2 separate regions of the Homo sapiens genome follow, and region 1 is linked to region 2. Evidence: fine-mapped expression QTL. Tissue or cell type: esophagus mucosa. Region 2 holds a variant in brackets; the other region holds the start of a gene. All regions are shown on one strand. Distances are from middle to middle. Region 1 holds the start of GPR143 (G protein-coupled receptor 143). Region 2 overlaps SHROOM2 (shroom family member 2).

The links.
Region 1: GPR143 starts here. The variant in region 2 is fine-mapped to the expression of GPR143 in esophagus mucosa (GTEx, PIP above 0.99).

The regions. Positions count from the first base shown.
Region 1 is chrX:9,761,881-9,773,791 of GRCh38, reverse strand. It overlaps GPR143 (G protein-coupled receptor 143), which reads left to right and starts at 7,945. Exons shown (of 9, transcript NM_000273.3): 1 at 7,945-8,224. The coding sequence starts at 7,975. RefSeq lists an enhancer at 8,538-9,039.
Region 2 is chrX:9,788,391-9,800,301 of GRCh38, reverse strand. The region is part of intron 1 of SHROOM2 (shroom family member 2); the gene reads right to left. Among named protein-coding and RNA genes, the nearest start is that of SHROOM2, 7.9 kb to the right of the region's middle. RefSeq lists an enhancer at 6,751-7,274. The variant C/T (reference allele first, on the strand shown) is at 4,467.

The DNA.
Region 1 (11,911 bases), 27 kb after region 2:
CCCTGGCTACAGAGATCCTCCCACCTTAGCCTCCCAGGTAGTTGGGACCACAGGCGTGCACCACCATGCTTCTGTATTTTTGGTAGAGACAGGGTTTTGCCATGTTGCCCAGGCTGGTCTTGAACTCCGGAGCTCAAGTGACCCACCCGCCTCGGCCTCCCAAAGTGCTGAGATTATAGGTGTGAAGCACCACTCCAGGGCAATTTTTCTAAAATTCAATGAAGAGTCAATTTTGTTTGTAGATATGACGAAAAAGTATATGTGTGTGCGTGTGTGTTTATGTGTGTGTGTGTGTGTGTGTGTGTGTGTGTACTTTCAAAGCCACTCCAAAGAGAGCAGATTTATGTAAAAGTGTTTGCTTTTAATGGGCCTTGAGCGTTTGTCAACTGAACTCAAGTACATAGCTAAGCATCAGGTCTCAAAATCATTACATTCCTTTTGTGGATGTTGGAAATTTTCCTTAAAAACTTTTTCTCCTTTTGAGCTGAAAAGTCCAAATATCACCAAATAGGATAAGGTGAACTGAACTGAAACTCTGACATTCTTATAAAGAAATGTAGACAAATGTCTTTAGGCAGACAGATGTCTTTAGGCAGGCAAATGTGAGAACGATTCTCACCATGAAGGCGTGTAGAATTATGCATGCTTTCTTGCACATCAGAAAAAGCACGCGATGTGAATTTACATGTAAAACACCGTACTTGATGTTAATTTAAATAAACATTGAACTGTCTTTAATAGTCTGTACTCGTCCATTTATTTGTGGCTCTGTTGTGGTAGTCATTAAACATTTAATAGCATCAACCACTCATACCACAATCAGCTTTTCATATCTGTCTTGTTTCCTTTTCTTTCTACTTGCTGTTTATTCCATCACAAATGCCAGTTTCAACTCTGAGCTATATGAAAATTGTTACTTTTGGCATATTTACTCCATCAGACTGTTATCAATGTCTTTTTTTTTTTTTTTTTTTTTTTGAGACAGGATCTTGCTCTGTTACCCAGGCTGGAGTGCAGTGACACTATCACGGCTCACTGCAGCCTCAACCCTGGAGGCTCAAGCAATCCTCCCGCCTCAGCCCCCAACAGCAGCTGGGACCACAGGTGCATGCCACCACACCTGGCTAATTTTTTTGAATTTTAGTAGAGATGAGGTCTCACTATATGTTGTCCAAGGCTGGTCTTGGACTCCTGAGCTCAAGCAATCCTCCCACCTCAGCCTCCCAAAGGCATAAGCCACTGCGCCCAGGTCAGTTGTTCTTTTTGAAATAGACGTGTTCTGCCAAATTTAATTGTGAATTGAAAATTGAATCACTGTGAAGCAAACCCTGTTTTACTTTCCATTTTCACCTTGTTCTCACAGTTAACAACTGACTAGTTGACTTTTACGGAGAAAGCATTTAAAATGGAGTGTGATGAGTTAGGAGGTTAGCCATGGATAGGTCCATGGGAGGGCAATGTGCTACTCACTTGGGCAAGAGCTTCTCCTGGGAGTTTATCACAATACTGGCTTCCTATTTTAACAGACCAGGATGGAAATGCTCCCTTAAGTTTCAATAGGAGAAAATTGTCAGGACATCCTATTTTTCAACACAAATCGCGTATTTGCCTCTCTCAGTCCTTATCTGTTGTCTTCCTCTTCCCTTTCTTTTCCTCCCTGCGTCCTGACTTCTGTCCCAGGTTAGTCCCAAACACATCAGAATCCAAGAGGAAGGACATTGCTCACCATTCTCCGACTAATGATTCCCTCCTTGACTCATCCACTGTGTTGAGAATGCTCCAGCCGGGCGCGGTGGCTCATGCCTGTAATCCCAGCACTTTGGGAGGCCAAGGTGGGTGGATCACCTGAGATCAGGAGTTCAAGACCAGCCTGGCTAACATGGTGAAACCCTACCTCTACTAAAAATACCAAAGTTAGCCAGGGGTGGTGGCACGCATCTGTAATCCCAGCTACTCAAGAGCTGAGGCAGGAGAATCGCTTCAACCTGGGAGGCGGAGGTTGCAGTGAGCCAAGATCACACCACTCTATTGCCACAGCCTGGGCAACAGAGCAAGACTCCATCCAAAAAAAAAAAAAAAAGAGAGAGAATGCTCCATGGCTTAGTTGGATGCTAATCAATTTTACTGCATCTATTTTGAACCAAGTCCTCCATAAATTCAAATATGGCCTGGGAGTTTTCTTTGCTTTTCAGGATAAGATACAAGCTCTAGGGTCTTGGCACTCAAAGTAGGAGCCATAGGTCAGCAGCAGCCATGTCTCCTTGGAGAATGTAAGAAATGCAGAGTCTTGGGCCCCACCCCCAGAAACCCTGAATCAGGATTTGCCTTTCCACAAGATCTGCACGCGAATGCACAGTAAAGTTGAACTAGTACCATTCTCAGGCCTGATGCCACTTCACATGTCTCCCTATTTAAAAAAATGTACAATTTGGTCTGGGTGAGGTGACTCAGGCCTGTAATTTCGGCACTCTGGGAGGCCAAGGTGAAAGGATGGCTTGAGACCAGGAATTCGAGACCAGCCTGGGCAACATAGCAAGACCTCATTTCTACAACATTTTTTTTTTAATTAGCCAGACATGATGGTGTATGCCTGTGGTCCCAGCTACTCAGGAGGCTGAGGCGGGAGGACTGCACCACCATGCCTGGCTAGTTTTTGTATTTTCAGTAGAGAAGGGGTTTCTTCATGTTGGCCAAGCTGGTCCTGAACTCCTGACCTCAGGCAATCTGCCCACCTTGGCCTCCCAAAGTGCTGGGATCACAGGCATGAGCCACCGCACCTGGCCTGTGTTCTTCATTAAGGTCTGGTGACACTACCTTATTTATTGGACACAGAATCTATACCATTGCTCAATCAACTTGCGTATGTTACTCATAAACTCCTGTTGAATTGCACTTAAATGAAAGGCAAAGATGCTGTTGGTCATCTGGTGGACCCAAAAGAGGGCTGTGGCTGGAGCAGCTGAAATCCTTTCTCAGGAAGAGCAGCTATCTGAGCACAGAGTTTAAGGCACATTGTGTGTCTATAAGGACTCTAGGAGTGAGCACAAAAGCAGGGTGAGGCAAGGAAGGAAGAAAGCAAATTAAGAGCAGTGCCATTCATGAACTGGCCACAAGATTCCCAAGAAACCCAGCTGGTTACACAGGAACATATGAAACCACTCCTCAGAAACCTCCCTAGGAAGGAAGGGTGAGCAATACATCTGCCAGTGACTTCCTGCTTCCTCTCTCATTGGAATAAGTTTGTCTGCCCCACTAAGTGTTAATCCTCCTCCATTTCTCGGTTGTTGCCCAGCCTTTCAAGCAGCTGCTAGATAAGCCAGAGCCTCAGGTGGTAGACTTACAGGAACTGCAGCCTATGGCCCTTTGCCTGTTTTGTAAATAAAGTTTTATTGGCACACAGCCATACCCATGGACTTATGTATTGGCTGGTCTTCCTCTCTCTCTCTCTCTCTCTCTCTCTCTCTCTCTTTTTCTTTCTTTCTTTCTCCTGTTCTTGCTCTGTCGCCCAGGCTGGAGTGTAGTGAACTCCTGACCTCAGGTGATCTGCCCGCCTCAGCCTCCCAAAGTGCTAGGATTACAGGTGTGAGCCACTGAGCCCGGCTTTTTTTTTTTTTTTTTTTTTTTTTTTTTTGACTGGGGGAGGTGGGGGACAGGGTCTCCCTATGTTGCCCCAGGCTGGTCTTGAACTCCTGGGCTCAAACAATGCTCCCACCTTGGCCTCCCAAAGTACTGGGATTACAGACATAAGCCACTGCACCTGGCCATGTTTTGTCTATATCAATTTAAGTATCAGTAAAACCCACTTGGAAGGCTCATTCTGAATATTAAATGAGATAATGAATGTAATATTCAAAGCATAGTGCCTGCCTACACTCCATAAATTATTTTATTATTTAAATCTTATTTATTAGGCTGGGCGCAGTGACTCACGCCTGCAATCCCCGCACTTTGGGAGGCTGAGGCGGGCGGATCACCTGAGGTCAGGAGTTCGAGACCAGCCTGGACAACTTGGCAAAACGCCGTCTGTACTCTAAATACAAAAAATAGCCAGGTGTGGTGGCAGGCGCCTGTAATCCCAGCTACTTGGGAGCCTGAGGCAGGAGAATCACTTGAACCCGGGAGGCAGAGGTTGCAGTGAGCTGAGATCGCACCACTGCACTCCAGCCTGGATGATATAGTGAGACTCCATGTCAATAAATAAATAAACAAATCTTATTTATTATTTAAATTCAAATTATTGTGAATGGCAGTCTCCTTACTTAGGCTGTTTCTGCCATCCATCTGCCCCTAGCCACCTCCTCTACTGGATTCTAAGGGATATCTGAGTCTCACCATAAACCCCATTCTTTTGGTTGAGACATCTCGATGTCAGGGGACTCACCATGAAAAATAAACTGCCTGGGAGAGAAACTCAGGAACCGTCTTCCAGCAGTTGATCAAGTGCATCTGATCAAGTGGGAATGGTGGGTAAATGGTGGATTGTGGAATGAGAGAAAGCCAAGATGATGGAGCATTTCCAGGGAACAGATGCCCCAGGCAGCCCAAACTGTGAAAATGGAGAGCGAATTCAGGTGCTAAACTGGGAAGGAGGGAAAAACGGAGGAAGGGTTCATGCAAAAACAGATGTACCTTCATGTACTCAAAGACCGATTGTTTCTGCACACATACCTCAAAGTTCATATTCAGCACCGCCATCCCTGTATCTCCCATATCTACGAAACTTCCAGATGTTTCTGCCTCCCAAGTGTGTGCGTGTGTATTTGCTTCACTTTTCTCAGATTTGTAGTTGTACTGTTTCATGAAAAGTTTTGTCAGGCCAGGCATGATGGCTCATGCCTGTAATCCCAGCACTTTGAGAGGCCAAAGCGGGTGGATCACTTGAGGCCAGGAGTTCAAGACCAGCCTGGCCAACATGACGAAACCTATCTCTACTAAAAAGACAAAAAATTAGCTGAGTGTGATGGCATGTGCCTGTGGTCCCAGCTGCTCAGGAGGCTGAGGCATGAGAATCACTTGAACCCAGGAGGCAGAGATTGCAGTGAGCTGAGATCACGCCACTGCACTCCAGCCTGGGCAATGGAGCAAGACTCTGTCTCAAAGGAAAAAAAAAAAAAAAGTTTGTCATCTCAGTTCACCCAAGCTGGAGTTTGGTGGTGCAATCACAGCTCACTGCAACCTCAAACTCCTGGGCTCAAGTGATCCTCCCACCTCATCCTCCCCAGTAGCTGCAACTACAGGTGCGCAGCAGCACGCTCTGCTAATTTGAGATGTGTCGTCTTCCTCTAGGGACAGCAGGACTGGCCTTCCCTTGGGACCCCACAGAAGGCAGGCAGGAGGCTCCACTGCCAGACAGGAAGCAGAGCCTTATTTAACAACAATGAGCTGCAAACTCCACCACTTCAAAAGATGCTGCTCCTAGAGGAAGACGCTAGAGATGGGCTCTCACTATGTTGCCCAGGATGGTCTCAAACTCTTGGGCTCAAGTAATCCTCCTGCCTCAGCCTCCTTAAGTGCTGAGATTACAGGTGTGAGCCACTGGGCCCAGCCTCTCATACCAATTTCTAGTTCCCTCTCACTTTGATGACAGGGTTTTAAATTTAGTCTTACACTCATGCTTCTGCACCTTTACTCTGAGGCTCATCTTTACCATTGTCATCTGTGCCATGGCCCTAGGAATCTGCATTCATATCCATTTTCTCACTGATGAGATTCTGACTACTGAGCTTGAGTAGTGGGCACCAGAGTCAGCCAGAGCCCCCTGGAGAGTACTCCCAGGTTATCACGTAGGAAGCAGAGAGGCGGAGTGTGTTTTCTGGGGCATGAAACAGTGACTCAAATGCAGGGACCCCTTTGCCTGGCCCACTGGCCCTCAACCTTCAGGCAAATGTACAGACACTCTTCATTTTTATCTTTTAAAGCACTTTCCATTACACTAACCTCCAGAAGCAACTCTGCTTACCAAGGCAGAAGGAAAGAGAGCCACTGTCCAAATTAGATATTAGAATTCAAGCTTTTAAACATTAATGCTTGGGGAGTAGTTCTATGGTGCTTCTGACTGTTTTTACAATGGAGTGTGTAATCCAGCAGAGCTGTTAAGCTTTCTGAAGATGTCAGTCTGTTCTGACTTCTAGGAAGGCAGCTGTGGAGTGAACAGGCTGCGTTTATAGACGTGCCAGATCTGGACTCTTTTGAAGTGGTGGAGTTTGCACCTCATTGTTGTTAAATAAGGCTCCGCTTCCTGTCTGGCAGTGGAGCCTCCCGCCTGCCTTCTGTGGGGTCCCAAGGGAAGGCCAGTCCTGCTATCCCTAGAGGAAGACGGCACAGATCATGCCTTCCTTAAAACCGCAAAGCTGGTGGGGAGAACAAGTGAGGAAAGTCCATGAACACAATGGGGACACCTGCACCTTGGTTGCTTGAAAAAAACCCAGAGAGGGGCCCATTTTACCAGGAGAGAGGAGGAAGGGTGTCTCTTGTGTGGTCACAAAGAGCCAATGAGGTTTGTTGAAGATGATAAATATGATGGAGCTGGATTTTTTTTTCTTTTCTTTTTTTAAAATAAAGGCCATAATCTAGAAGGAGCACTTCTATTTTCAGCCTTGAAGAACTTAAAAAAAAAAATCTTAGTATGCTTACTGTAATCATTAACACAATATTACTTGGAAACTTACATGTATAGAATAAAGCAAGATTTTCAATGTATGAGAAAACATAGAAAAATTAACGCAGTTAAGAAAAATCCAAATAAATAGAACTGAAAGTTAAGGTGCAAAATGTGTCTGTGTGTACTTATGCTGAGTACTTTTCCCTTTATTTTTTTAATGTTTTTAAATTTTAAACTTAATTCTGTGTGTGTGTGTGTGTGTGTGTGTGTGTGTGTGTGTGTGTGTGAGAGAGAGAGATAGGGTCTCACTCCATTGCTCAGGCTGGAGTGCAGTGGTGTAATCTCTGCTCACTGCAACCTCCACTTGCCGGGCTCAAGTGATCCTCCCACCTCAGCCTCCCCAGAAGCTAGGGCTACAAGCACGCCCCACCACATCCAGCTAATTTTTGTTTTGTTTCGTTTTTTGATACAAGGTCTGGCTCTATCGCTCAGGCTGGAGTGCAGTGGCACTATCTTGGCTCACTGCAAACTCCACCTCCTGGGCTCAAGCGATCCTCCCACCTCAGCCTGCCGAGTAGCTTGGATCACAGGCCTGGGCCACCACACCGGGCTAATGTTTGTATTTTTAATAGAGGTGGGGTTTCGCCATGTTGCCCACGCTGGTCTCCAACTCTTGAGCTCAAGCGATCTGCCTGCCTCGGCCTCCCAAGGTGCTGGGATTACAGGTGTGAGCTACTGCTCTTTCTTTAACATTGATCTGTTTGTTTCATTCATTAATTGTAAACGAAAATCCTGCCTCTGTGGGATTATATCCATGAATGAGAGAGGCCATAAAAAAAAGCACTAATTGGACAACCATCTCTACTTAGGAAAAAAGCAGTTACAGGGATCAGTCACAGTTTATGAACATGTTCTGGCGCCTTAAAGGCATCAAAATCAGGATGTCAGAGTCCCAAATAGGAAAGATCTAGTCCACGAGGCCTGTTTCTCTAGAAGACCAGTAAAGATGGCAGGTTTGGCGCTCTAGGTGGCAGAGAAACCACCAGGAAGGCTTGGTGAATGGGGAGAAAGGTAACCTTCCCAACCTTTCTGCTTCTCCTTCCACTTCCCTCCTCCTCCTCCCTCTTCCTCTCCTCTCAGCCCTCCCTCTCTCTGTCCTCCTCCTCCGCCCGCCCAAGCATCACCTCGTGAGGCCTCGTGGCGTTAGCCCAGTGCTCTCGGCCCCCACCGAGCCTGGCTCTACTGCAGGCGCTGGGGGTTGGGGTGGGGGAGAGGCCCAGGGCACATGATGCCGCCCCCAGCCCGCCCAGCACATGACCCAGGCAGGCCGGCGGGGTCCTGGCACACCCGAGCCGCGTCCGCGAACACAGCCCATGGCCTCCCCGCGCCTAGGGACCTTCTGCTGCCCCACGCGGGACGCAGCCACGCAGCTCGTGCTGAGCTTCCAGCCGCGGGCCTTCCACGCGCTCTGCCTGGGCAGCGGCGGGCTCCGCTTGGCGCTGGGCCTTCTGCAGCTGCTGCCCGGCCGCCGGCCCGCGGGCCCCGGGTCCCCCGCGACGTCCCCGCCGGCCTCGGTCCGCATCCTGCGCGCTGCCGCTGCCTGCGACCTTCTCGGCTGCCTGGGTAAGGGCGCGCGCGGCCCGCGGGTTGGAATCTGATCAGCGCCTGGGTGAGGGCGCGTGGCCCGCAGGTTGAGACCCGACTGGTGCCCGGATAAGGGCGCACGGCCTGTGGATTTGGACCTGTTCCGTGATGGAGTGAGGACGAGAGGCCCGCGGGTTGGAACCTGCCCGGTGCAGGGCTGAGGGCGCGTAGCTGGCTGGTTGGGACCTGCTCGGTCCCCGGCTGAGGGCTTGAGGCCCGCGGGTTGGGACCTGCTCAGTGCTGGGGTGAGGGCGTGAGGCCCTGGGGTTGGGACCTGCTCAATCCCCGGGTGAGAGTGCGTGGCCCGCAGGTTGAGACCGGATCGATGCCCGGGTGAGGGCGCATGGCCCGCAGGTTGGAACTCGATCCACTCGGGTTGGAACTTGATCGGTGCCCGGGTGATGGCGCACGGCTAGCGGGTTGGGCTGGCCGTCTTAACACTTGAACCACAGAGAAAAGAGAAAGCGGAGGCTGTTCCCTAGGGACCGGATGGGACAACTAGGTAATTTTTTTTTTTTTTTTTGAGACGGAGTCTTGCTCTGTCGCCCAGACTGAAGTGCAGTGGCGCAATCTCGGCTCACTGCAACCTCCACCTCCCGGGTTCAAGGGATTCTCTTGCCTCAGCCTCCCGAGTAGCTGGGGGAGGCGCGCGCCACCATGCCCGACTAATTTTTGTATTTTTAGTAGAGACGGAGTTTCACCATGTTGGCCAGGCTGCTCTCGAACTCCTGACCTCAGGTAATCCACCCGCCTCGGCCTCCCAAAGTGCTGGGATTACAGGCGTAAGCCACCGCGCCCGGCCGACTAGGTAGTTTTGCAAACACATGGTCGGTAAAATTCCCATCCAAGGGACGTTGGGTTTTAAAAAATCCGTTTATTGTGTTTGTTATATGGAAACTTCAGATGGCGCAGTTAAGCAAAACCCAGACCAGAAAAGATTTCCTCATTTTTGCCCAACTGCACCAGGGAGAGACTAACAATTAACTTCTCTCTGTCTCGCTCTGTGTGTGTGTGTGTGTGTGTGTGTGTGTGTGTGTGTGTGCGCGTGTGTAAATTCTTTTCTATTGTGCACTATATATTCTCTCGAGTATTTTGTAAGCTGAAATCCCTTCCCTATCCAGGCTTTTTGGGTATGGTTTTTACACCACAGGTGCGCAAACTGCAGCCCTCAGACCAAATCCTGCCCGTTTTCTAGGGTCCACGAGCTAAGAATGGTTTTACATCCTACTTTTTAAAAAATTAATGATTTTGTTTTTTGAGACAGGGTCTCACCCTCTTGCCCAGGTTGAGTGCAGTGTCACAATCACAGCTCACTGCAGCCTCGACCTCCTGGGTTCAAGCGATCCTCCCACCTCAGCTACCCGAGTAGCTGGGACTACAGCCACACGCCACCATGCTAGGGTAAATATATGTGGGGTCTCACTATGTTGCCCAGGCTGGTCTCCAACTCCTGGGCTTAATTAAAAGATCACCACCCTTGGCATCGTAAAGTGTTAGGATTACAGGCGTGAGCCACCTCACCCAGCCCTAAAATGTTTTTAAAAATCAAAATTAAAAAATATTTCCTGGCATGTGACTATTACTGAAATTTAAATGTTAATGTCTACAAATAAAGTTTGATGGGAACGCAGCTATGTTGTTCATGTGCATTTGTGAATTATTCATGGCTGCCTTTACCCTACAAGGGCAGGGTGAATATTGGACTGAGAAAGTATGGCTCCCAAAGCCAAAAATATTAAGAATGAGTTTGCCAACATCTGCTTTAAACTATTATGTGACACTTTATACAGACCTCTCAGCTAGATTTGGCCATTCTGTTTAGCTTTTTGGAACATTTCCACCATGCGTAAATGCAGTCTATAATAGAAACACTTACAGTGAATCCCTGTACGTGGGATTCGTGAGGTACGGGTACCCGGCTCATCTGCTCCCCTCTTCACCCTCCTCACTGGATTAATGTGAAGCCAATCTCAGGCTCCATCATCCTGCCCATTCAGATCTCAGAGAGAGCCCTAAAACATAATAATTCTAAACATTTGCAACCCCAATATCATTATCACTTTATTTTTGAGACAGGGTCTCACTCTGTTGCCCAGGTTGGAGTGTGCTGGCATGATCATAGCTCACTGCAGCCTCGAACTTCTAGGCTCAAGGGATCCTCCTACCTCAGCCTCCTGAGCAGCTGGAACTACAGGCATGCATCACCACACTGGCTAATTTTTGCATTATTTTTTCAGAGCTGGAGTCTCACCATCTTGCCCAGGCTGGTCAAACTTCTAGGCTCAAGCGATCCTCCTACTTCGGCCTCCTAAAGGTGCGGTGGCTCACGCCTGTAATCCTAACTACTCAGGAGGCTGTGGTGGACGGATTGCTTGAACCCAGGAGTTCAAGACTAGCCTGGGCAACGTAACGAGACCCAGGCTCTACCCCCAAGAAAAAAAAAACAACAAAAAAAAGGCCCGTCATGGTGGGATGCACATGTGGTCCCAGCTACTCACCAGGCTGAGGCAGGAGGACCATTTGAGCCCAGGAATTCCAGGCTAGAGTGAGCTACGATCCAGCCTGGGTGACAGCCAAGACCCTGTCTCTAAAAAAGTAAGGTGTACCCAAACATCTTTTGAGGGTTAGTGAATAATACTTGCATATCCTTTAGCCTTTAGAAGGGAAGTGGATGAGGTTGCGAGCAAATAAGCAGAAGTCAGGAAAAGGCTGGGTGATCGGGACCCCTTACTGAAAAATAAGAAATTTCAATGCCCATGGGATAGGGCTTTTATTAAGCTCAAAGGAGTGATAAATGCTGAAAATTCTAAGGCACCGTACAGAAGAAAGGCATTGTTTTTGTTGGCAGTGGCTTGATAATGAGAAGATGTCTTGAGCTTTTTAGTGTTCACAGTTGTCGTTTAGTAGTGTATTACATAGTGTGTGTTTAGTGGTATATTACATGGTATGTGTTTAGTAGTATATTACGTAGCATTTGTTTAGTGGTGTATCGCATGGTGTGTGTTGCATATTATATGGTGTGATTTTAGTAGTGTATTGCACAGTGTGTGTTTAGTGGTGTATGGCATGTTTACCAGTGAGCACTACTACATAGTATGTAGCTTGGTGTTGTTTACAGTTCTCCCCTTTATATTACCTAGCATACTTTTTTTTTTCTCAGATGGAGTCTCACTCTGTCGCCCAGGCTGGAGTGCAGTGGTACAGTCTTGGCTCACTGCAACCTCCACCTCCCAGGTTCAAGCGATTCTTGTGCCTCAGCCTCCTGAGCAGCTGGGATTATAGGTGCCCACCACCGTGCCTGGCTAATTTTTGTATTTTTAGTAGAGATGTGGTTTCCCCATGTTGGCTAGGCTGGTCTTAAACTCCTGACCTCAGGTGATCCACCCACCTCAGCCTCCCAAAGTGCTGGGATTACAGGCGTGAGCCACCATGCCAGGCTCTTTACTTTTCTTTTCTTTTTGACACAGGGTCTCACTCTGTCGCCCAGGCTGGAGTACAGTGGTGCGATCTCGACTCACTGCAACCTCCGCCTTCCGGGCTCAAGCGATTCTCCCACCTCAGCCTCCTGAGTAGCTGGGACCACAGGCGCGTGCCACCACCTCCAGCTAATTATTGTATTTTTGTAGAGATGGGGTTTTGCCAGGCTGGTGTCATCTCCTGGGCTCA
Region 2 (11,911 bases):
AAGGTGTCCCATGAGGAATTACTGAGGCTTTTCCAGCAAGAGCATGAGAAGTAGACCACTGTTTTGGCACACCGACTACTGGAGGTCTCAAGAGTCTGTCATGTGAAGAGGTGAGCAGCAGTATGCATGTTACAGACTACTGTGATTGCCCAGGCAGTCACTGGAGCAAACCACTGGAGGCAGTGACGCTGGGCATGAGAAGAAAGCAATGCACACCCCGTATTTAGGCTCCAAAGGATTGGTGATCAACTGGCTGTGGGAGGTTAAGGGGAGGAAGGCATCAGGGACGACTTCTAGATTTGGGGATAAACTGATGATCAAGATTAGAAATTCAGAATTAGAGAAGGTAAAGGAAGATGAATGATTCCCATTTGGATTGTGCTGAGTTTAAAGGGCCTCAGCAACACACAAGGGCCATCTCAGAGTTCAGACGAAAAGTTGATTTGGTAAAATGGTCATTGAAAATTAAAAAAAGAAGAGAAGTTGAGGCTGCACATATAGATATGAGCATTGTCTATAGGCACCATATATCACCATGTTTACAAATTTGCAAACAGATGCACGTTATCTCGAGGAAGCACATGAGACCACCTAGATGAGAGAGAGAGGACAGATAAAAGGACCTTCAAGAAATCCAACCTTCTAGTAGATGGCAAAGGAAAAGAACCAGTGTAAGCCACTGTAAAAATAGAAAGAAGGGGAAATAAAGAGTTTTCATAGGAATTGAACATTTTTTTCAGTGAAGCAATTACAACATGGGTAATTTAAAAATTAAAAATTCTTAATTAATGGTAATTAATTAATGGGTAATTTAAGAATTAAAAATTAAACTCTCAGGCCAGGCGTGGTGGCTCACACCTGTAATCCCAGCACTTTGGGAGGCTGAGGCAGGCAGATCACCTGAGGTCAGGAGTTCGAGACCAGCCTGGCCAACATGGCGAAACCCCATCTCCACTAAAAATACAAAAATTAGCCGGGCGCGGTGGCGCACCTGTAATCCCAGCTACTCAGGAGGTTAAGACACGAAAATTGCTTGAACCGGGGAGGCAAAGGTTGCAGTGAGCCAAGATCATGCCACAGCACTCCAGCCTGAGTGACAGAGCCAGACTCCATCTCAAAAAAAAAAAAAAAAAAAAAAAAAAAAGAATTAAACTCTCCGTAAAGGCAAACAAGTTCCTGCCTCAGGGTACAAGGAGGTGCATCCTCAGGAATTTTACCTTTGTGTTGAGATTTCACAACCATGAATAGTGGTACAAGTTTTAATTACTTGTCCCCAAAACACCAGCCACTAAAAATGAGGAGGGGGAGTGGAAATGGCTCCGTCCCAAACCCTAATGGCATCAGCATGTGAGAGCTCTGTCGTTAAATCAACACAAAATAAATATGATTGAAGCAGCAGCAGGCCTATCTTTTCAAGTCCAGATGTTTTCTTTCCAAACTTTAATTCAAGATTCAGGGCATCTAAACATAATGAAAATGTTAAGAAAAGCTGCACATACAAAAAAGCATAGTTGTTTGAAAGACTGACATATTTGACCAATATAAAGTACACTCCGTTTTCCAGAAATTAGGGTTTTTAAAAATATGCCTGTCTAGAAAAACCTAAATTATAAAAATATATTCCACAACAAAACATACCATTTCTTAAAACGTCAAGTGGCATACACACAATTAAACTCCTTTCATCTGATTCCAAAGATTGTTGACAATGTAATTCTTAAGGGTTTTCAAGCAATTAAAAATTAGATCTACGAGGTTCAAAGCAAAGAATTCCACAGAGATGGGGAAAAATCAATACAGCTGTACTTTCAGAAATAAGATTATTACATGTTTTGGGCTATGGATCAATCTTTTCCTTTATTTTCAATTTTTTTCATTTTAATTGTGCAACAAGAAAAAAGACACTGTACAAAGCATTATACAATTAGCAGAGATAAATATCACCATGTTTACAAATTTGCAAACAGATGCACAATTAACACCAATAGATGTGGAATTTCGTCAGCTTCAGAATCTGCAAGCCATAGGTAAAGAATCTCTTTCACCTCTTTTGCAAGTCCAGGGAGGGTTTTCAGCTGGACTTGGGCCCCTGCTCTCCCTACCAGCTTCCTCCACAGGCTGTCCTAACTCCTCTTTGTAGGCGGCCAGTACCTGAACAGACAAGGTCTTTCCTCAGCACTCCCACTCCGCCAGCTCCACCTTCCTCCCGAGGCCAGTTTTACTTGGCTTTCATCTGGCTTTCAACTTTATCTCTCCTCTCTTTGCTGGTCTAATTCATGTGTCTGGGTGCTACTACCAGGGGGAAAAAAGTCTGCCATACAGAACTATAATTAATTAATCTGATGAAGGCAGTTCTGTTAATGATGACAATGTGTAGCCCTCCCAGGCAACATTTGCATTTTAACCAAGGCAGTTAAAGAAAGGACACCACCACCAGGAGGAAGGTCCAATCCCTGAAATCATCCTAACAGCAGCTGGCCACCCACCCCACCCACTGTGCCTCCGGCCAGCCCCACCTAGGACTAATTATCTAGACTGGGCATTCTCCCGGCCTCCTGCCCCAATGCTCCAGGGCTCCCAGGAAATCATCCCCGGGGAGGAGAAGGAAGAGCAAGTGGGGGGTGGGGGTGAATAAATTACCAGCTGAGAGAAAAGGGTAAGGAGGTGGAAAGACGCCAATGGGCGTGGAGGTCTCATTTTATATAATAAGTGTGCAGGGAATAGGCTTCATGCTAATTGGACACCCACAGTGATGCTTTCCTCACTCCTTCCAGCATGGGTGTAAAAGAAGCACCGTATATTCCGCCTCTTAAAGCTGGGTATATTTGCTAGAAGGAAAACTTCTGATTTCTCCCAGCATTTCATTTGTGAGAATAGTCTGTTACAGCAAGTAATCCAAAAAACATACAATGAATGGCCCAAACACAGCAGAGGCTTACTTCTTGCTCACCATGGATGGTGACCATAGCATGGGCAGCCACCTCTGCAGTCATTCAGGGATCCACGCTGATGAACTCTGCCCTGCGGCCATCTTCATTCCAGGCAGCCAGAAGGGGAAAAGTAAAATGGCAGGCATGGCTGCAGCTGCACTCCCCAGGGTAGAAGCGTCAGGAGGCCACAGCTAACTGCTAGGGAGGCTGGGAAATGTGGCCCAACAGTGTCTGAGAGGAGGAGGCAACAAGGACTCGGGCAGGCAGCATTTCTGCCACACTTGTGGGTCCCACTCTAAACCCTAACAGATTTTCTACTCCAAAGATTGAAAGAGTGAAGAAATAGAGTCTTGTCACAGGGATACTGAATCTTCATCTTTCCCACTATTGCCACTTCCCAAAACTACTTTTTTAACACCCTACTCTGGCCCAGGAACAGTGGCTCACATCAGTAATCTCAGCACTTTCGGTAGCCATGGTGGGTAGATCACTTGAGCCCAAGAGTTCGAGACCACCCTGGGCAATATGGCGAAACCCTACCTCTACAGAAAATACAAAAAATTAGCCAGATGAGGTGGCATGTGCCTGTAGTCCTAATACTTGGGGGGCTGAGGTGGGAAGACTGCTTGAGCCCAGGTGACTGAGGTTGCAGTGAACCGTGATCACACCACCGCACTCCAGCCTGAATGACAGAACGAGACCCCATATCAAAACAAACAAAAAAACAAATAAAAACCCTACTCTGAATACCACATTGATCTGAAAGAGCTACTCCCTTTATTAATATTATAAAAATAAGAAACACTATTATTCTGGAAAAAAGTTTTTTGGTAGAGGAGAGGAAAGAATCACTTCTGGTGGGCTACAAATAACATAGGAAATGTACTGATGCTGGGCATTAGATGTATTTTTTATTTTATTTTTATTTTTTATTTATTTTTTGTTTTTGAGACAGAGTCTCACTCTGTCGCCCAGGCTGGAGTGCAGTGGTGTGATCTTGGCTCACTGCACCCTCAACCTCCTTGGCTCAAAGCGATCCTCCCACCTCAGCCTCCCAAGTAGCTGGGACTGGAGGTACATACCACCTTGCCTGGCTAATTTTTCTATTTGTTGTAGAGATGGGGTCTCATTTTGTTGCCCATGCTTGTCTTGACTTCCTGGGCTCAAGCAATCCTCCCACCTCGGCCTCCCAAAGTTCCAAATTCTTAATGAATCAGGATTGAGTAGGGAAAGTGAGGAAGAGAAGTGAGGGGGAATTTGAATTTACTAGAGATAGCTTTATGTGTTGCCTCATTTAATCCCCATGATACCACAATAAAATAGGAATGATTCTAGTTGGACAGACAGAGGATTACTGATTAGAAACGGTTAGGAACTGAGAGCAAGATCCAGCTCCGGATGCAAGCAAGCAAGCACTGCCTCCTCTGCCTAGTGGTAACCTTCCCTCCAAACTGGAACCACTACAGCCAAAGTTGGGGGGCAGAGATGATCACCCTCGCCCAGCTGAGCAAAGGAGAGATCCCCTCAACTGGCAGA[C/T]TTCCCATTACTTTTCAACCTGTACTACACCAGAAGTTTATTAAGTAGAAAAAAAGTATCTGACAAAAACATGGCCGCCTCCCTGCCCCTCCAGAAAAAAAAAAAGAGAAAGATACAGCCTTAGAGGAATACCCAGGGAAACAGCTTCACCTGATCACTCACCCCCATGCACGGAGTGTCCAAACAGCATTTTGGGGAACGCAACCTTCAATACCAGCAGACGGCCAAGGAGCACTAGACATTTGAAGACAACCTCTAACAGGGAAGAAAGCAGCCAAAACAAACAACAAAAGCAGAGCTCAGAAACAATCTATGCAAAAAGAGGACATTTTTAGAGACCAGTTTAATACTGTCACAGATATGGAAGAATCATGAAACAAGATCAGTATGGTATGAAAAAGGAACATTTGAGAAACAAATTTTAAAAGTTTAGAATCTGAGGGAAAAATGAGGACATACATTTAAAACTTAATGGAAAGATTAGAAGATGATGTTGAACAAAATCTTCCAGGAAGAACAAAAATACAAAGAAATGCAAAATAAGAGAGCTGGGCATAGTGGTACACACCTGTAAACCCAACTACTTGGGAGGCTGAGATGGGAGGATCAGTTAAGCACAGGAGTTCAAGGCTGTAGTGTGGCTATAACCGTGCCTGTGAATAGCCACGGCTCTCCAGCCAGAGCAACACAGCAAGACCCTGTCTCTTCAAAAAAAAAAGAAAGAAAGAAAGAAAGAAAAAGAAAAATGAGAGGGAAAAAGTAGACCTAGTACAAAAGATCAAGAAACAAAAACGTCTGATCTCCCTCCAGCAATACTGCACAACAGCAGAGTGGACACCACCTTCAGAGTGCTGTGGGAGAACTGTCTCCATTCAGGACTACGCCCAAACAATTTACTGTCAAGATAAAAATCATGCTGTTTTCAGACAGAGAAGATCTCAAAAGATGACCCCCGGTGTGTCTGAATATATTAAGAGATATTTCATCACTGGGGAGGGTTTGAGGGATGAATCAAGGATAAGTGCACTGAAAATTAAGCAAAGAAAACTATCCTGAACCCTAGTGACTGCAGAAACTTGTGTTGTGGGTACACTGGCTGGGGCCAGAGTCACGGGCAGTAAAAGAATTTACTGAGACAGTAGTCAGTTAAAGAAAAACTAGTTTATGGCTGGGCGCGGTGGCTCATGTCTGTAATCCCCAGCACTTTGGGAGGCTGAGGTGGGCGGATCACCCAAGGTTGGGATTTTGAGACCAGCCTGACCAACATGGAGAAACCCCATCTCTACTAAAAATACAAAATTAACCAGGCGTAGTGGCAGGCGCCTGTAATCCCAGCTACTCAGGAGGCTGAGGCAGAAGAATCACTTGAGCCTGGGAGGCGGAGGTTGCAGTGAGCCGAGATCTCGCCATTGCACTCCAGCCTGGGCAACAAGAGCGAAACTACATCTCAGAAAAAAGAAAAGAAGAGAAGAGAAGAGAAGAGAAGACTAATTTATTAGAGAAAAAGTATGTTGCAAGGGAGCAACAGGCAACACAGCAGAGAAGGGGTTGCAAAGAGGCAGGGGCTGGAGGGAAGTTTTATAGGATCATGCTGGAGAAGCTACACGCAGAGTTGTTTGTGGTTAGCAGTTTCTCAGAACAATTGTTCTCCCCCACCCTGGGGTCCCTTCTTCATTGATGCTAACTTATCAGGACTCCACAGTATGTACCCCCAGACTCAGCAGTGATAGCAATAGCAACCAAAATAAACACTGAATATTGGTAACCCCATGCTCCTCAGAGCGGGGAAGAGGCCAGCCTTAGTTGCTCACGCCTGTAATCTCAACATTTTGGGAGGCCAAGGTGGGAGGATCACTTGAGGCCATGAGTTCAGGATCAACCCAAGCAATACGGTGAAACCCCATCTCTACAAAAAATACAAAAATTAGCTGGGCATAGTGGCATGCACCTGTAGTCACAGCTACTCAGGAGGCTGAGGGGGAAGGATCACTTGAGTCCAGGAGATGGAGGCTGCAGTGAGCTGTGATCATGACACTGCACTCCAGCTTGAGCAAGAGAGCAAGACCCTGTCTAAAAAAAAAAAAAGAAAGGAAGAGGCTAGGTATGCTGCTCAAGATCCTACAATTCACAGGATGGCCCCACACCAAAAAATTATGATGTAATCACATTAGGGGTATGAAGGGCCAAGAATTGTGCCTGAGTAGTTGGGGGAGGGTAGATGAGCAATGAAAAAGAGTGGAAATAAGGGCCAGGCGCAGTGGCTCATGCCTGTAATCTCAGCACTTTGGGAGGCTGAGGTGGACAGATCACTTGAGGCCAAGAGTTTGAGACCAGCCTGGCCATCATGGCGAAACCCCATCTCTACTAAAAATATAAAAATTAGCTGGGCATGGTGGCTCGAGCCTGTAATCCCAGCTACTCGGGAGGGTGAGGTGGGAGGATCGCTTGAACCCCAGAGGTGGAGGTTGCAGTGAGCCGAGATCATGCCATTGCACTCTGGCCTGAGTGGCAGGACGAGACTTTCAAAAAAAAAAAAAGAGTGGAAAAAAGGCTACATCCTAATATCCTACATTGGGAAGAACAAGCTAATAAACAAAAGTTGCAGCAATATACAATATAAGCCATCATTTAGGGATATGGACAGAAATACCAAAAGAAATCAGCTAAGACGTTTTGATAGTTGTCTCTAGGGAGGGGGAAGTGATCAGTAGTCAGGCCAAATGACCAGTAGCATATAAGCACCCTTGAAGAACTACTTGATAATTCATACTGTGCAAGAGCCACTTTGATAAAATAAAACCTCATAAAAGATACACTGACACTCCTAGCGTGTCACGATGGCTCATGCCTATAATCCCAGCACTTTGGGAGGCCAAGGCGGGTGGTTCACTTGAGGTCAGGAGTTAGAGACCAGCCTGGCTACCATGGTGAAACCCTGTCTCTACTAAAAATACAAAAATTAGCAGGGCGTGGTGGTGTGCGCCTGTAACGCCAGGCTGAGGTGGGAGGATTGCTTGAACCCCAGAGGCGGAGGTTGCAGTGAGCCAAGATCATGCCACTGCACTCCAGTGTGGGAGACAGAGCAAGAATCTGTCTTAAAAAAAAAAAAATACGCTATCATGCTTGCCCCTTCCCTTCTATGAGTAAGAAGTGTTACCTTTCAAGGACACAGAGTCTACCCTGCCTGGGTTCTTGTTGACCTCAACAATTTGCCTTTGATCTGAAAGTCACCTTTTGCCAAAAGAAAGATAATCCCAGCCCTTCCTAGCCAAGCCAAGATGCTGTTTTTCTTCCCTTTCCATCCAAAAGAAGCAGCCCTCATTGCCTGCAACTTAATACGCTGGGGATTTAAAACAACAACAACAACAAAAAAAAAAACAACACAAAAAAACAGCCCAGGGGCTCCTTATCTGGGGAAAAAAATGTTACCTTTGCTTTGCAATTCAGAACATCCTAGTTCTAAGGTTCAACCAAATGAGGTTTGTCCAATTTTTTCTTTTTAATGATATAGTATTATCCTTCTAAGACATGTTCCCCCAAAGAGAAGCTGGAACATTCACACCCATAATGGGAACAGGCTGGCTCTACTACAGGACAGCCCAAATACTGCATCACACAAGGTAAAGGACAACAATTCCTCCAGAATACACCCTCCCTGTATCAGATACTGGTGATTATTCTATTCTATTCTATTCTATTCTATTCTATTCTATTCTATTCTATTCTATTCTATTCTATTCTATTCTATTCTATTCTATTCTATTCTATTCTATTCTATTCTATTCTATTCTATTCTATTCTATTCTATTCTATTCTATTCTATTCTATTCTATTCTATTCTATTCTATTCTATTCTATTCTATTCTCGAGATGGAGTTTTGCTCCTGTTGCCCAGGGCAATGGCACGATCTCCAGCTCACCACAACCTCTGCCTCCCGGGAGCCTCCCGAGTAGCTGGAATTACAGGCATGCACCACCACACCCGGCTAATTTTTTTGTATTTTTAGTAGAGACAGGGTTTCTCCATGTTGGTCAGGCTGGTCCTGAACTCCCGACCTCAGGTGATTCACTCGCCTCGGCCTCCCAAAGTGCTGGGATTACAGGCGTGAGCCACCGTGCCTGGCACTGGTGATATTTTTTTAAAGGCCTAAAAGAGCAACAGGCAACCCAGAACTCTTTCAAAATCCTTCATGTGGGTTAAAGTTTTCGGCTTGCATGTGTAGGAAGAGGGCTTGCAGAAACCTGCAGAATTTATCCTTCATGAATTGCCCCACTGCTGACTACAGTGCTTGAAAGTAAAAGAAGACCTGAATAAAAAGTCCATTCAGCTTTTACATTCTAACATTATCGTGTAGAATGTTTCCGCTGCACCCGGTGTGCAAGAAGAAAAGTTCCACAGAGCCCCAGCTTTTCTCCACTGCCCTTAAGAACTTGGCCACAAATCCAGGTTTATTTGCATGCTGATACAAAACAACTCTGGCAAGGGGACAAACAACTCCAAAATGCTTTCCAAAGAGAAAAACCAGCCCTTCCCAAGTGGCAAGCCAGTTTTTTTGACCATGAATTACAAAGGTAGATTAAGAAACCCCCAGCTCATTAGGACAAGGTGAAAACTGCTACTTGTTCTGAGCCTTTCATTATCATACTATTCTACCTTTAGCTCTTGGGCAAACTAGTTTTCTTTTCTTTTTTTTTTTCAAAAGATAAATGTTACGACATGTTAAGAAATACTCATAACTGAGCCATGAAGACCGAACGCATCCTGGTACAGAAGTGAGATGCATAGCTTATGTTTACAGCTTCTCATAATCGCAGAAGGCTCTGGATTCATAGGCGTGAGTCAAGCTGAGTTAATGTCTAAGAGAGGAAGAATCCTCCCAGAGCTGACCCTCAAAGCCTCCAGCTCCCAGACCCTGGAATAGGACTTGAGGCTCACTGCCTGACTCCACACTCTTGCCCAAAACATCGCCGGAGAACAAGGATGAGAATTCAGCAGGGTCACATTAATTCACAGGCTGGGAAAAGGTAATAAAGATAGACTTGAAAGCCAGTTGGCAAGGCGGGCCTACCAACTGAAAGGGTCTTTCAGCACAGGAAAGAAAGCTCACCTCTTGGTTTTTAACCTTACTATTAATTCTTAAATACAGATGGATCTTTATAATGACACTTATCCTAATAGCTGAAGAAAACATGGTAGCTGGCATCAAAAAGTGAGTAAAGCTTTACAACTCGGACATCACTTAGAGATGGCAGAGGCAAGGGAGATCCAAGCCCTCACCCACTGGTTCTCAGACACCTGGAGAAGCAGCAGCACTCCCTCGTGCAGATGTTGACCGCACACTGCATCTGGGCACAAAAATCCACCAGCAGCCACAAAGTTGAGAGTCACCCGCTCCTGACCCACTGCTGAATTCATCAGGTCCCTCTTTTTCAAAACCTTTACTGATATTTCACAAAGAGCTTGGTTGGCTCTTGGGAGCCAATATAATGGCATATGAGACAAGAACTGATCCCGACCAGGGTGGTCACTCTGATCTCCCCGGTCCTCGGGTCACGAGGTGACTTGGCATGGCCCATAATGCAGAGCCCCCTTTCCAAACCAATAAGTAAGGTACATCAGAGGCGCGGGGCCTCCACTCCTGCCCATCACCAACCACCAGTCTCAGCCCTGTGCCCTCTGCAATCAAGGACTCAGCTAACACTTTACATAAGACACTTGCCACCTGGCTGCACGCCCCCCAAAATATGCCCTGATTCCGTCTTTGGCATTCACACTGGAAAGGACATTTCAAAGCTCTGTCTCCAATCCAGAGAAATGTTCTCAGAGTCTGAAGCCCTGGGGTGGGTGAGTCAGGTGGGGGGGACCTCCAAGCGTCCCAGACCACAGCAGTCTTGTCGCACACAACAGCTCTGGTGCCCAATGGCAACCCGAAAATCAATGGGTTCCCAAAGGAGCTGCCCTTGGGGCTAGGCCAGGCCCAAGTTACTGTCTTCTTTGGAGCTTCGGGCTAAGGCTTCTGGCATTCTTTTTGGGGGAGGGAGCGGACTCTAAGAAATAGTGAACAGGAGAGGCTGGGGCTTCATTCCTTCCCTCCCTTAACAAACATTCCTGAGGCCACAGGGGGCTGCTGACACCCAGCTGGTGTATTTAACGCTTCCTCATGAATCCCCCAAACAGCTTTGTGGAATTCAAGCCACTCTAGTGACATTTTAGAAATCAGTCCCCTCCCCTCCCCCCACTGAAGACTTCCACTGGTTGAATGGATGGGAACAGAAACATGCAAAAAACCCACCAGGATCACATATATCCACCATCTCTACTTCCGTTACATAGATTCCTACAGCATGGATGTTATTCCTGCCCCCTCTCTAACAACAGCATGGAAATATGGGTTTGAGTGCATTTTTTCCACCAACTGTAGCAAAATTTCAAGGCAGAAATCAGCAGAAACGTACTGAGGAGTGATGAATCCTGTCGCCATCTGTCAGCGGAGGTTCTGCTGGGCTTCATGCATGCACCCCAAATTCCAAGAATGCTACTCCTCTGAAGTTGGTATCCCTTTAGCTTCAAACTAGACCCAGAGAGTAGTCAGTCCTGATTCTGAACAGCCACTGTGGATGCCCATAAAACACAGCACTTGGGAGTTCCTGCTTCAATTTCCTTTCTCCAGCTACAAAAAATGCAGATGAAGCAAGTATTTGTTTGAGTTTGACTATGTAAATAAAGCCTATTCTCAGGGCCAACGCGTGGGAGGAAAACAGCTCTCCATGCAAACACTGGCAATGCCAGAGGCCTCTAAACACACCACCCTAAAGGCCAGTCTATTCAAAAAGAAACAGAAGTTTTAAGAGCAAGAATCCTTTAAGAGCAAAGGTGATATATGGTTAATCTAACAAAAGAGATTCAAAACCAGGCTAATTTTGCCCCCAGAGGACATTTGGCAATGTCTGGAGACATTTTTGTCATCACACCTGGAGAGAGGTGACAGTAGCATCAAGCAGGTAGAGGCTGGGGAGGCTGCTGAGCATCCTCCAAAGCACAGGGCAGCCCCACAGCAAAGAGATTCAGCTCACAAAGTCCCCAATGCCAAGGCTGGCAAACCCTCACCTAACCGATGTGACGAAGGTATTCAATATGGCATTGCAGGAGATCCCAGACCCAAGCAGATGGCACTGACTGAAGGGGAGCAGCAGGCTTGAACACTGGGGCCAGAGTCTGATTCTTAGGGCCTTTCCCAGGACTCAACAGTTTGTGACCTCAGGATACACCATTTGCCCTGCCTGGGCCACAGCTGTTTCATCTATAAAATGGGCTGATAAAATTCCATCTGAAGACCAGGACCGAACCAGCCTTGTTCTTGACACCCCTCCCAGTTCTACTACACGCACTCCCATGAGGCTTTCAAATGATACCCTCATTATCATAAAGAGAAGGTGCGCTCTTA